Regions from separate parts of the Homo sapiens genome. Here region 2 is linked to region 1. The links come from fine-mapping of genetic effects on gene expression. A gene starts in region 1. The other region holds a variant in brackets. All regions are shown on one strand. Distances are between the middles of the regions. Region 1 holds the start of WARS2-AS1 (WARS2 antisense RNA 1). Region 2 overlaps WARS2-AS1 (WARS2 antisense RNA 1).

Region 1 (5,384 bases):
CTAGTCTCGAACTCCTGACCTCAAGAGATCTGCCCGCCCCAGCCTCCCAAAGTGCTGGGATTACAGGTGTGAGCCATTATGCCCAGCCCATGATATATACACACTTTTAAATGTTAACCATTTTGTATGAAAACATTTCAAAAGTGTATTGTAGGTTTTTTCTTCAAAGATACATTGAATAATATATCTTTCCCCGAGGAGTCATGGTTACCATTATTAAAAACTTATTAAAATACGTTAAATATACTGAGCTGAATATATTCCTCCTCTTAGAAGATGGTGAGCTTTGTAGTCATACTTTCCCCAACACCAAAATGCTTACTGTGAAAAAGTACAAAAGTAGACAGAACTGGTTCATTTTTAATACATCCTGTGTCTTTTCTGTTAACTGTTCCTTCTGGCTGTTAAAAGCATAACAATTGCTGACAATAAGCTGTGTAATTTGTTAAAATCCAATTTACTTTTAAAAGAGGTGCCTACTCTGCATAAGAGACTATTCTAGGTGCTGGGGGAGATGTTAGAAATATAAACTATAGTCCTTGTCCAAGAAGCAAGGCTGGCTGAGTGACACCTGAGAGTTACCAGGTCACCGCCACGGTGCAAAACACAGTTTATTACTTCTAACAAAGTCTAAAAATTAGCAAATATTTTCAATTTTAAAAATCAGGATACTAAAGTTATAAAACTTGTGGTCTTAAAGTCCCACCTTTTTTAGTGGGACTATGTCTTGGAAATACCTCCCACGGAAATATTATTGGTCATAGGAGTCTGCAGATACGACTAAGAACTACTTCTTGAAGAAATAAAGTAGGTACACCCTTTGACAGCTTTTGGTGCACCATAGTCTTATTGCTAGGTTTTATCTTGCTATCTAGATGACTAAAGATGTCAGAAAGCTAATCTTGCTAATTGCTAGGGTCATGTAATCTCATTAATAAAATATATGTAAAACACTGTACTATAATGCTTTGCTCTATGTATGAGTAAAACATGTAGGGCATTTATTAAACTGCATTTTACAAGGCATAACATATATCCCCCTTCCCCTGGCAAGGTTTGTTTCCAGGGTCTCAGTAATATCACATTCTTTGGGTTCTACAACACCTCTTGGCTCCTTTATTTCCATCATCTGGCTACTTTCACTCCACAAACTCTATCTGATGGTCTCAAGGATTTCCTTGGTTTCAATTACCATCTGTTTGGTAGTTCAAATCTCTTCTGAGCTCCAGACCCATGTATCTATTTAATGGGCATCACATTTTGGAAGTACTACAAGCACCTCAAATTTAACAGCCAAAACCAAACTGATCAGCTTTGTTGAAGACTATAACTTGATTTCCTAGTTTTTTTTTTGCCTTCATCCCTTTCCTGCTCACTTCTAAATTACACCAATTATACTTGAACTTCACCAGTACTTTGTATACCTACAAGATTATCCTATATGGTTTTAATTTACTGTTTTGTCTTACCCTGGTAGATTTCAGCTCCTTTATAGGCATCTCTTATCTCCTACCTCTCCTTGGTAATTTTCAGTAGCTGGATGAATTATAAACAAAACACATAAAGGAATTGTCATGAATTTCTTCCAGTTATATTTTTACTGAAACACTCGTTATCTGTCTGGGAGATTTTTAGGTGAATTAACAGAAGCAGAAAAACTGTATTAAACTTTCTCATAACCCCAAACAAAACAATTTCTTCCATCAGGTATAACCTTCCTGCAGCCTTCCCTAGACTAGGTTGAAACACCACAGTCATAACCACTCCTCCTTAAAACTTGCGGTGCTTGCTTCTTTAACACCTATTAAGTGTACATCATTTATTTATCCGCTACTCTATTAGACTGTACACAACTTGAAGACAAGATATGTCTTTCTCTGTACCTTCAGTGCCCAGCACATTACGGTAGGGTTCAACAAAGTTTACAGGACGAATGAAATAAGGCCACATAAGTCCAGTGCGGTGGCACATGCCTGTAATCCCAGCACTTTAGGAGGCCGAGGCAGATGGCTTGGCTTGAGCTCAGGAGTTTGAGAGAGCCTGGGCAACATGGTGAAACCCTGTCTCCACCAAAATACAAAAATTAGCCGGGCGTGGTGGCGCACCCTTGTGGTCCCAGCTACTCAGGAGGCTGAGGCAGGAGAATAGCTTGAGTCTGGGAGGTGGAGGTTGCAGTGAGCCGAGATCGCGCCATTGCACTCCAGCCTGGGCGAGAGTGAGACCTTGTCTCAAAGAAAAAAAAGGGAAATGAGGCCACACATGTCTAAAAAGACCACTTATATTACCCTCTAAGAGAACTGGGAGTTTCTAAACAAACTTTTTAAAGGTTGCCTTCACATAGCTAAGATCAGAAATGCAGCCTACTTGACTTTCTTCCAGTCTAAAGCGTTGCTACTAATAACCCCCAAGGAAATTCTCCTTCCAGGAAGGCTGAGCAGACAAGGGATCCAGGGAAAAACACTAAAGCCCCACCCCGCTCCTGTCCCCACCTGCTCGGCAAGAACTGCAGTCCGCCCGATAGCGGCTGCGCTGCGCAGCCTGGAGGCCCAAGCCGCGCCCAGCAAGCAGGAGTCGCGAGACTGGGATTGGCTCTCTGAACAGACGTCATTCCAAACAAGACGGCTCCGCCCTTCTCAAGATGGCGCTGCACTCAATGCGGAAAGCGCGTGAGCGCTGGAGCTTCATCCGGGCACTTCATAAGGGATCCGCAGCTGCTCCCGCTCTCCAGGTAACCAAAGACGGCCCTTCCCTCCGCGGCTTCCCATCCCGCGAGGTTCTTCTCATCCCACTGCCCTCTATTTATTTCTCTCCTCCCGCTTCTTAGGGAAAGTACATGCCTTCCCTCGCCTAAGGTCTACTCGTCTATGACTGTCGGCCTGCTCAGAGCGTAGTGACGTTGCAAGGATACGTGATGACGTAAAGGTTTCTTGGTGGAAAAAGCGCGCCGCTTTCTGACCTCTTGCCGCCACCTCCAGTTCTGGGAGCGGAGCGCCGCCGCTGTTGCCGGGCAACGCGGTGAGCCTACCCCGCGTGTGATGTTTTCAGAGACGGGTTGTTTTAGAGACTGCTCTTCTTGTGGTCTTATTACTGTTTTTACCCTCCTTACCCTAACAACACGCTAAGGGGCTATCGGAGAGAGTAGAGAAGTTTTGTTAGGCATTGGGCAGCTTGGGTCGGGGCAGCAGGTTGGCAGTGTGGTACTTGAGCAAGTGTCAGTGCATCTTCCATTCTGGTTGCTCCTGGTGGCTCCACAGCACTGCTCTATCTAGCAGGCTGTGAAAGAGTGACCGCAAGCTGCTACAGAGTTTGTCCTGTCCTGCGCTTGACAACACTGCTGTTACCATTAATCTCGTCGTACGGAGACCATGTCGCGGCCTGGTCTTATTGGGAATTGTCTTAAATATTTGGAATTTTACCCTCATAGCAAAAAAGTCAGGGGGAGGGGATACCCTTTCAGTTATTCAGGATTTTACCAAACGTCTTCCAAGTACAGTCTCAGTGGCAAGCACTTTGACATACTTTATCTACGGGAGATATATTCTGGGAACTAGAGAGAAAGGAGAGAATGTGATTTTATTAGGTAATTTCCCGGCATCATTTGCATATGTATTGCCATAATGAGTAGGTGTGAGGATGTCGCACCTATTGTAACTGTTGTGTTGAAAACAGCGCTAGACAGGAAGGTAGCCTAGAGGTCAAGGGTTTGGTCTGCCACTTGACAGCTGTGTGACAAGTCACAATCTCTCTGGGACTTTTCTTCTTTTTTTGCTCATATTGAGTGGAGGAAGAGAGCTGGACTGATTGACACGTTAATGTTCTTTCAACCTCTGGAAAATCTATAGTTCCATGATTATGAAGCCAAAACAAAGCCAATGAGAGTAATTATGAAAACCAAAATTTAAGTTCAACTTATTTTTCTAGTCATGTCATAAATTTTTTGAACTTCCGTTTTTTATTAATGTGAGCCTCACAAAATTCTTATAAGCTAATATATTAATATATACCGGAAAGCTGCTTGTCAGCAAACAACTATTCAAATGTCACCTTAAATTTCAGCAGCAATGTTAGGTAAGACAATTCAAAATTAGATAAATTTATCAAAAATTCCTCTCCTTGAAATTTGAGGGTTTGATTCTGCAGAACTAGAATGAGATGATTATTTATAATTTATAGCACATTAACACCTATGCTATCAAAGTAGCTAAGCCGTAGACCCAAACTTCCCCTTATTCCAAACTAAAGAATTGAAGATGTCTTGAGAATAGAGAATCAAAGAGAGAGAGAAAAAAAAGACAAACTGCAGCCTGCTAATGACTGCCCAGGGAAGTTTAAGACACTAAGTCATTATAAATGCTAAAGAAAAAATTTCTTAAACCTCTACTATTGTTTCAGTGGCATTTATGAATAGGGCTATTAAAGTTAATTATTAATCTAGATTGTTTCAAGATGTAGAATTTCCAGTACCGATGAATGTTTCTAAACCTTTAATTTAGCTTTGAGTAGAATAAGTATTAAATGTGAGAGTATTTTTTTAAAGTATAAATCTACATATAATTTCAGTCATTGAAAATGATGGTTTGAAAGATTAATGTGGTTTTTTGAAAGACTGAGAAAAGATACAAAATTGTGTTCATAGTGTTATTACGATGTTATGTTTATATATAAGTGTTTATATAAACGTATACATAGAAAAAAAGCCTGGAAGGGAACAAACATTTTTAACTTTTTTATTTTGCTTTGGCCTTCCTAAATAGTGGGTTAAAAGTTATTTGTTTCCTTTTATAGCATTACATATTTTTCACATGTCTAAATTGAAGACACACACTTTTTAATAACCAGAAAAACGTTTTGAAATCATAAATCTTTATACAGATCTTTAGTCATTAATATCATTTGTGATATTTTAGGATTCTGAGGAAGATACTTGTCCCACAATGCTGTTATTAAAATGGCCTTAGAAAAGGACTACTAAAAATTTATGGCCACTTTTCCTGTATGTATCTTCTTTTTCTCTTGAAAAGCTTCCTTTGAAGTCAAAGGGATTTTGTGAACAGATGCAGAAATATGTGAAAGAGGCATTGGATTCTTAAACCAGATGCATTAGACATTTTTATGATATCTCATAACCTTTGTAGAAAAAAATTATTTTGCAAGAGTATAGTATAATGGGAAAAAATGTATATTTATCATATGAATGGTTCCATCAAAAACCAAGAAATAGCCAAGTTAGTTTTTATTAGCCTTGGCTGTGCACTTACTCCCTTAGGTGTAAAGCAAAAGTGAATGAGCCATAACAGTGCTATGTTAGAAACTCTAACTAATAAAGTGTTGTGATTCCTAAGTTGTTTTAATGGTTTTTAGTGTTTTCTTTTTTTAAAACAAAA
Region 2 (5,384 bases), 79 kb before region 1:
GCCCCACCCTGAATCTGCTGCTGCTTCTGCTGTACAGTCTTCTTCACGTAAAGATGAGATCAAGGAGCAAGGATGCAGAACACTCTTGGGACTTTCCCCGATATTCCAAGGCAAAAGAAGAACCTAGAGAGAATTAGTAACAACAAACAAATCTCTCTAGGGAAATGTATAGTACTTTTTTAAAAAAGATTCTCCAAAGAAGATACGTAAGTGGTCAAGAAGCACATGAAAAAATGCTCAACATCATTAGTCACAAAAGACATGCAAATCAAAACCACAGTGTGATACCGCTCACACAGGTACAATGGCTAAGATTTAAAAAGACAGAAAGTAAGAGGTATTGGTGAGGACATGGAGAAACTGAAACCCTTCTGCAACGCTACTTGGAGTATAAAATTATGCAGCTTTTTTTGGAAAACAGCTTGCCAGTTTTTCCAAAAGTTAAACAGAATTGTATGACCTAGTAATGCTATATATCCAAGAAAATTAAAAACATGTATTCACACAAAACCATATACAGAAATGTTCATAGAAACATTATTCATAATAACCGAAAGGTAGAGATAACCCAAATTTTTATCAACTGATGAGTAAATGAATAAAAAGTTCTACATCCATATTATGGAATATTATTCAGCCATAAAAGGAACGAAGTATTGATACATTCTACAACATGGATGCACCTTGAAAACATTATGATAAGTAAAACAAGCCAGATATGAAGTCCACTTATTATGTAATTCCATTTAAGTGAAAATCCCAGAATAGGAAAACACATAGAGACAGAAAGTGGATTATTAGAGGGTGTCAGGGGTTGGGTGGAGTGAGGAGGGAGGATGCAGACTGCCTGCTAATGTGTCAGGGTTTCTTTCAGGAGCAATGAATATATTCTAGAATTACACAGTGATAATAGCTGCACAACCTTTTGAATATATTAAAAGCCACCGAATTGCACACTTCCTAACAGTAAATTGTAGGCATGTGAATTATACATCAATTAAAAAATTATAAGAAGAAGACTTTAGACTTGTTCAAAGGACAATTAGGACCCTGCTGGAAACTCTAATCTCAACTTGAAAAGTTTTGCTAGACTACTTGCCTCTTCATCTCACCCCCCAACTCATACTCCAAAGCAGCCCCAAACCACAGTCCCTAGCTATTACTAAAGGAAAAAAATAGGAGAGACACCAATCAGCATTGGAGGTGACTTGAGAAGCATTTGATGTTTGCAGACATTCCCTGTAGGGTGTGGGGGAGGAGGGTGAACATAGGAACGTGAATTAATGGAAGATATTGCTCCATCTCATGAAGGGATCCAATGCTGACTATGAAAGGAAACCAAAGTGTCTCCAGAGAGGCCTCTTTTTAATACCTTCCCATGTGTTGACTATAAGGGAGCATGGCCAACATAATCCTCTTTAGACACAAAGGTATTTGACTTGAAGAGGAGAGGTCACCCTGAGCAATTCTGAGGCTTGCTTGCTTGCTTACTGAGCTCCTCCTTGGGTCCCAACATTTTTGCTGGCCTAACTTCTCCCCTGACTCAGAGGCTGTGGGTTTCTTCTCCTTGAATCCTCTCTCTCCCTGTGATGTGTGTGAGAGAGGAAGGAATGTCAAAGTGCAACATGAGTAGTTGCCTATTTAACTACTTTAAAATCAGCTCTAAAAAACCAAATTGATTCTAACCAACAGAGTGCAAGATTTTCAGTTTTGCCACACTGATGATGGGAATCAATTTGCTACAGCTACTATGAAAACCAGCATGGAGTTTCCTCAAAAAATTAAAAGCTGAACTAAATCACATACCATATTATTCAGCAATCCCACTTCTGGGTATTTATCCAAAATAATCAAAATTAGGATCCTGAAGATATATTAGCACTCTCCTGTTCATTGAGACACTATTCACAATAGCCAAGATGTGGAAATAGCCTTGATATCCATCAAACTATGAATGGATAAAGAAAATGTGATATATACATACAATAGAATACTATTCAGCCTTTAAAAAGAAGGAAATTCTGCAATATGAAACAAGATATCAACCTTGAGGATATTTCATTAAGTGAAATAAGCCAGTCATAGAAAGAAAAATACTGCATGATTCTACTTATATGAGGTATCTAAAATAGTCAAATTGATAGAAGCAAAGGATAGAATGGTGGTAGCCAGGAACTGGGAGAAGTGAGAAATGGGGAGTTATCAATAAACAGGCATAAAGTTTCAGTTAAGCAGGATGATAAGCTCTAGATATCTGCATTACAATATAGAACATACAGGCAACAATAAGGTCTTGTACACTTAAAAGTTTCCTGAGGGTAGATCTCATGTTGTGTTCTTACCACAATAAAATAAAATTGCCCCCATCCCCACTTCCACCCCCTGCCAAAAAACCTAAATTGATTATCTTCAGAAGATGCTAGGGAACCAACTAGTTTTTGGAAAATTGGTAAATAAAAGTTTAAAATTTTTAAGGTTTCCTTTTGTTTTTACTATGCAAAGTGTGCCACCGAAGAAACAAAAACCACATGGGTACTTAAATTTCAACAAATTCGAGTTCTCTTTCCCATCCTGCAAGATGATGGGTGAAAAAGTTGAGAAGCTGCATACCAAAGAGAAGAAGCCCGAAGCCAAAAAGGCTAATGCTGGTGGCAAAGTGGAAAGGGGTAACCTCAGGGCTAAAAAGCCCAAGAAGGGGAAGCCC[C/T]GTTGCAGCTGAAATCCTGCCCTTGTCAGAAGAATTGGCACATATTCCTGATCTGCTATGTATTCTAGAAAGGCCACGTACAAGAGGAAGTACTCAGCCACTAAATCCAAGGTTGAAAAGAAAAAGAAGCTTCTTGCAACTGTTACAAAACCAGTTAGTGGTGACAAGAATGGTGGTATCTGGGTGATTAAACTTCACAAAATGCCTAGATATTATCCTACTGAAGACGTGCCTCAAAAGCTGTTGAGCCATGGCAAAATACCCTTCAGTTGGCACGTGAGAAAACTGCGAGCCAGCATCACCCCCAGGACCATTCTGATCATCCTCATTGGACACCACAGGAGCAAGAGGGTGGTTTTCCTGAAGCAGCTGGCTAGCGGCTTGGTTGGTACTTGTGACTGGACCTCTGGTCCTCAATCGAGTTCCTCTACAAAGAACACACCAGAAATTTGTCATTGCACCTCAACCAGAATTGATATCAGCAATGTAAAAACCCCAAAACATCTTACTGATGCTTACTTCACAAAGAAGAAGCTGCAGAAGCCCAGACATCAGGAAGGTGAGATCCTTGACACAGAAAAAGAGAAATACGAGATTACAGAGCAGTGCAAGATTGATCAGAAAGCTGCGGACTCACAAATTTTGCAAAAATCAAAGCTATTAAACATCAATGACTACTAACATCACAAAAAGAGAGACATTGAGACATACGTAACCTCTAAGGAAGAGCACCTAATAGTGAGGTCCTATGCTTTAAAACAAGAAGAAAGAAGAAAGAAGAAGGAGGAGGAGGACCTGGATTGGTCACTTAGACACAATCAGAAACACAGAGTAAACTTTACTGTGGGGAAGCAACCCGCTAATTCTAAACTGTAGGAACCTCTTTAGATTAAGTGTTGCATTTCTTTCAATGAATTAATTGTAAGGAAAAATAAGGAGATGAAGGGGAAGCCTATGGATTAAAAGGCACTTAAAAGATATTTATAAAAAACAGGTAAAGCTAAACAGGTGTTTAGGAATATACACTTAGGTGATAAGACTATTTTTAAAAAGTGAGAAGTGGTTGCAATAAAAGTTAGGACAATGGTTACTTTTGCTGGAAGAGGGGAGATGTTTGAGAGATGGGCATGTAGAGGGCTTCTGAGGTGGCTGGAAAAGTTCTCTTATCATGGGTAGTGTTTACAAGAGTTATACCTTTAAAACCATTATTTTAACTTGCACATTCTCTTTTCATGGTTTTTTGGTACTTACAATATATTTAACAATAAAAAGTTTTTTAAATAAAAATTAAATAAAACAAGCTTTGATGGGAGAAATGGGAAAGAAAAAACAGAAAATGGAGAAAAATATTAGGAATGTAAGAGAGAAAAGGGTCACATTTGTGACCCCACATCTATTTTTCATAGCAAAAACAGAACCCATTTTTTTAATCACAAAGATGATTTTGGGTGTCACCTAGGACTTCCCTCTTCAAAATGCACAGTTAATTTTGGCCACCTATGACCCTGACAATGAAATCCAGGAGGAGGGGGAAGAGCTGGTGGAGAAGAGACTGGAATTGAGACTGGCTAGCTGATTGTGCATGTGCTGGCTGGAAGAATGGGAAACCAACATCTTAAGACCACCATTTGTGAGAGGCCAGAGTGGCAGCACAGCCCCCAAGAAAGAATGTGGAATAGTGTCTTCAGTGACCCCATCAGAGAGACACCAGCATCCCCAGGAGCAGCTGGAGAAGTCAGGACCCATGTAGGGAAATGTCAGCTGTGTCAGAACCATGGGAGCAGAGAAGGAAGGCCTCTGTAAGAGAAATCTTTCTCTGCCTGTCCACATGTCTGTCAGCATGACATTTTGGGTCAATAAATATTCATCAGGATGCACCATTCCAGCTGACCTATGTTACCCCCTCCACTGGAGGAGAAAATAAACAGGACTGTGGGTGCAGAAGACGTCTGCCCCCTTCAGAGGTGCCTTTGTCCTTTGTGTGTGAGCCAGGAGTTCAGATGCATGTTTACCTCCTTGAATCCTTTGGGACTTTTGCATCTAATATCTGGTAGAAAGTCAGCTCCTTCCCTGTGTGTTAAACAGCAACACAGTGCCATCAACATTGTCAACTGTCAGAGAATAACATTCAAATGGAGGTTAGCTAATCAGTGAGCAACTCTTTCTGTTACCTGCTAATGGGAGGGTTCCCCAGGTGGAGTTTGTTTCTTCCTTTTTTGTGCTCCCAACATCTGTTTTCATACATCTGTTTTGGCTTTTCCTCTCATTGCTATTGTTTCTGTATCTGTCTCCACAGTGAGACTGGGAACCTCTCACTAATTTCATCAATATTGATTGAGCAACTCTTATGTACAAAGCATTATGCTAGCTAAAGTGGCAAACAAAGGAGTAACTCCTAGAGCTAAGAGGCAGATATTAACCAACCACACAAATACATGCATAATTATACATTATGTGAGTGCTAAGAGAGTGAAGGGTGAGATGAATGATTACCCAGGGAAGTCTGTTGGATAGTTCCACATTAGGAAAGGCTTCAGTGAGAAAGAATGTGGAGGGATTGGCCAGGCTAGGGACAGGGGAGTGTGTTTCTGGGCAGGGAGTATGTCCAGAGCAGGGGGTAAGAGGAACCCTGGTGCAAGCCAGGGATGGAGAAGCAGGGCCATAATATGAAGAGCCTGGT

The links.
Region 2: its variant is fine-mapped to the expression of WARS2-AS1 in spinal cord (GTEx, PIP 0.97).

What each region holds. Positions count from the first base shown.
Region 1 is chr1:119,137,899-119,143,282 of GRCh38, reverse strand. WARS2-AS1 (WARS2 antisense RNA 1) reads right to left here and starts at 2,887. Exons shown (of 7, transcript NR_125975.1): 1 at 2,490-2,887; 2 at 1,470-1,536. It overlaps WARS2 (tryptophanyl tRNA synthetase 2, mitochondrial), which reads left to right and starts at 2,630. Exons shown (of 6, transcript NM_015836.4): 1 at 2,630-2,728. The coding sequence starts at 2,639. RefSeq lists an enhancer at 2,549-2,858.
Region 2 is chr1:119,217,291-119,222,674 of GRCh38, reverse strand. All of the region lies in intron 4 of WARS2-AS1 (WARS2 antisense RNA 1), which reads right to left. It also overlaps the pseudogene RPL6P2. Among named protein-coding and RNA genes, the nearest start is that of WARS2, 79 kb to the right of the region's middle. The variant C/T (reference allele first, on the strand shown) is at 2,705.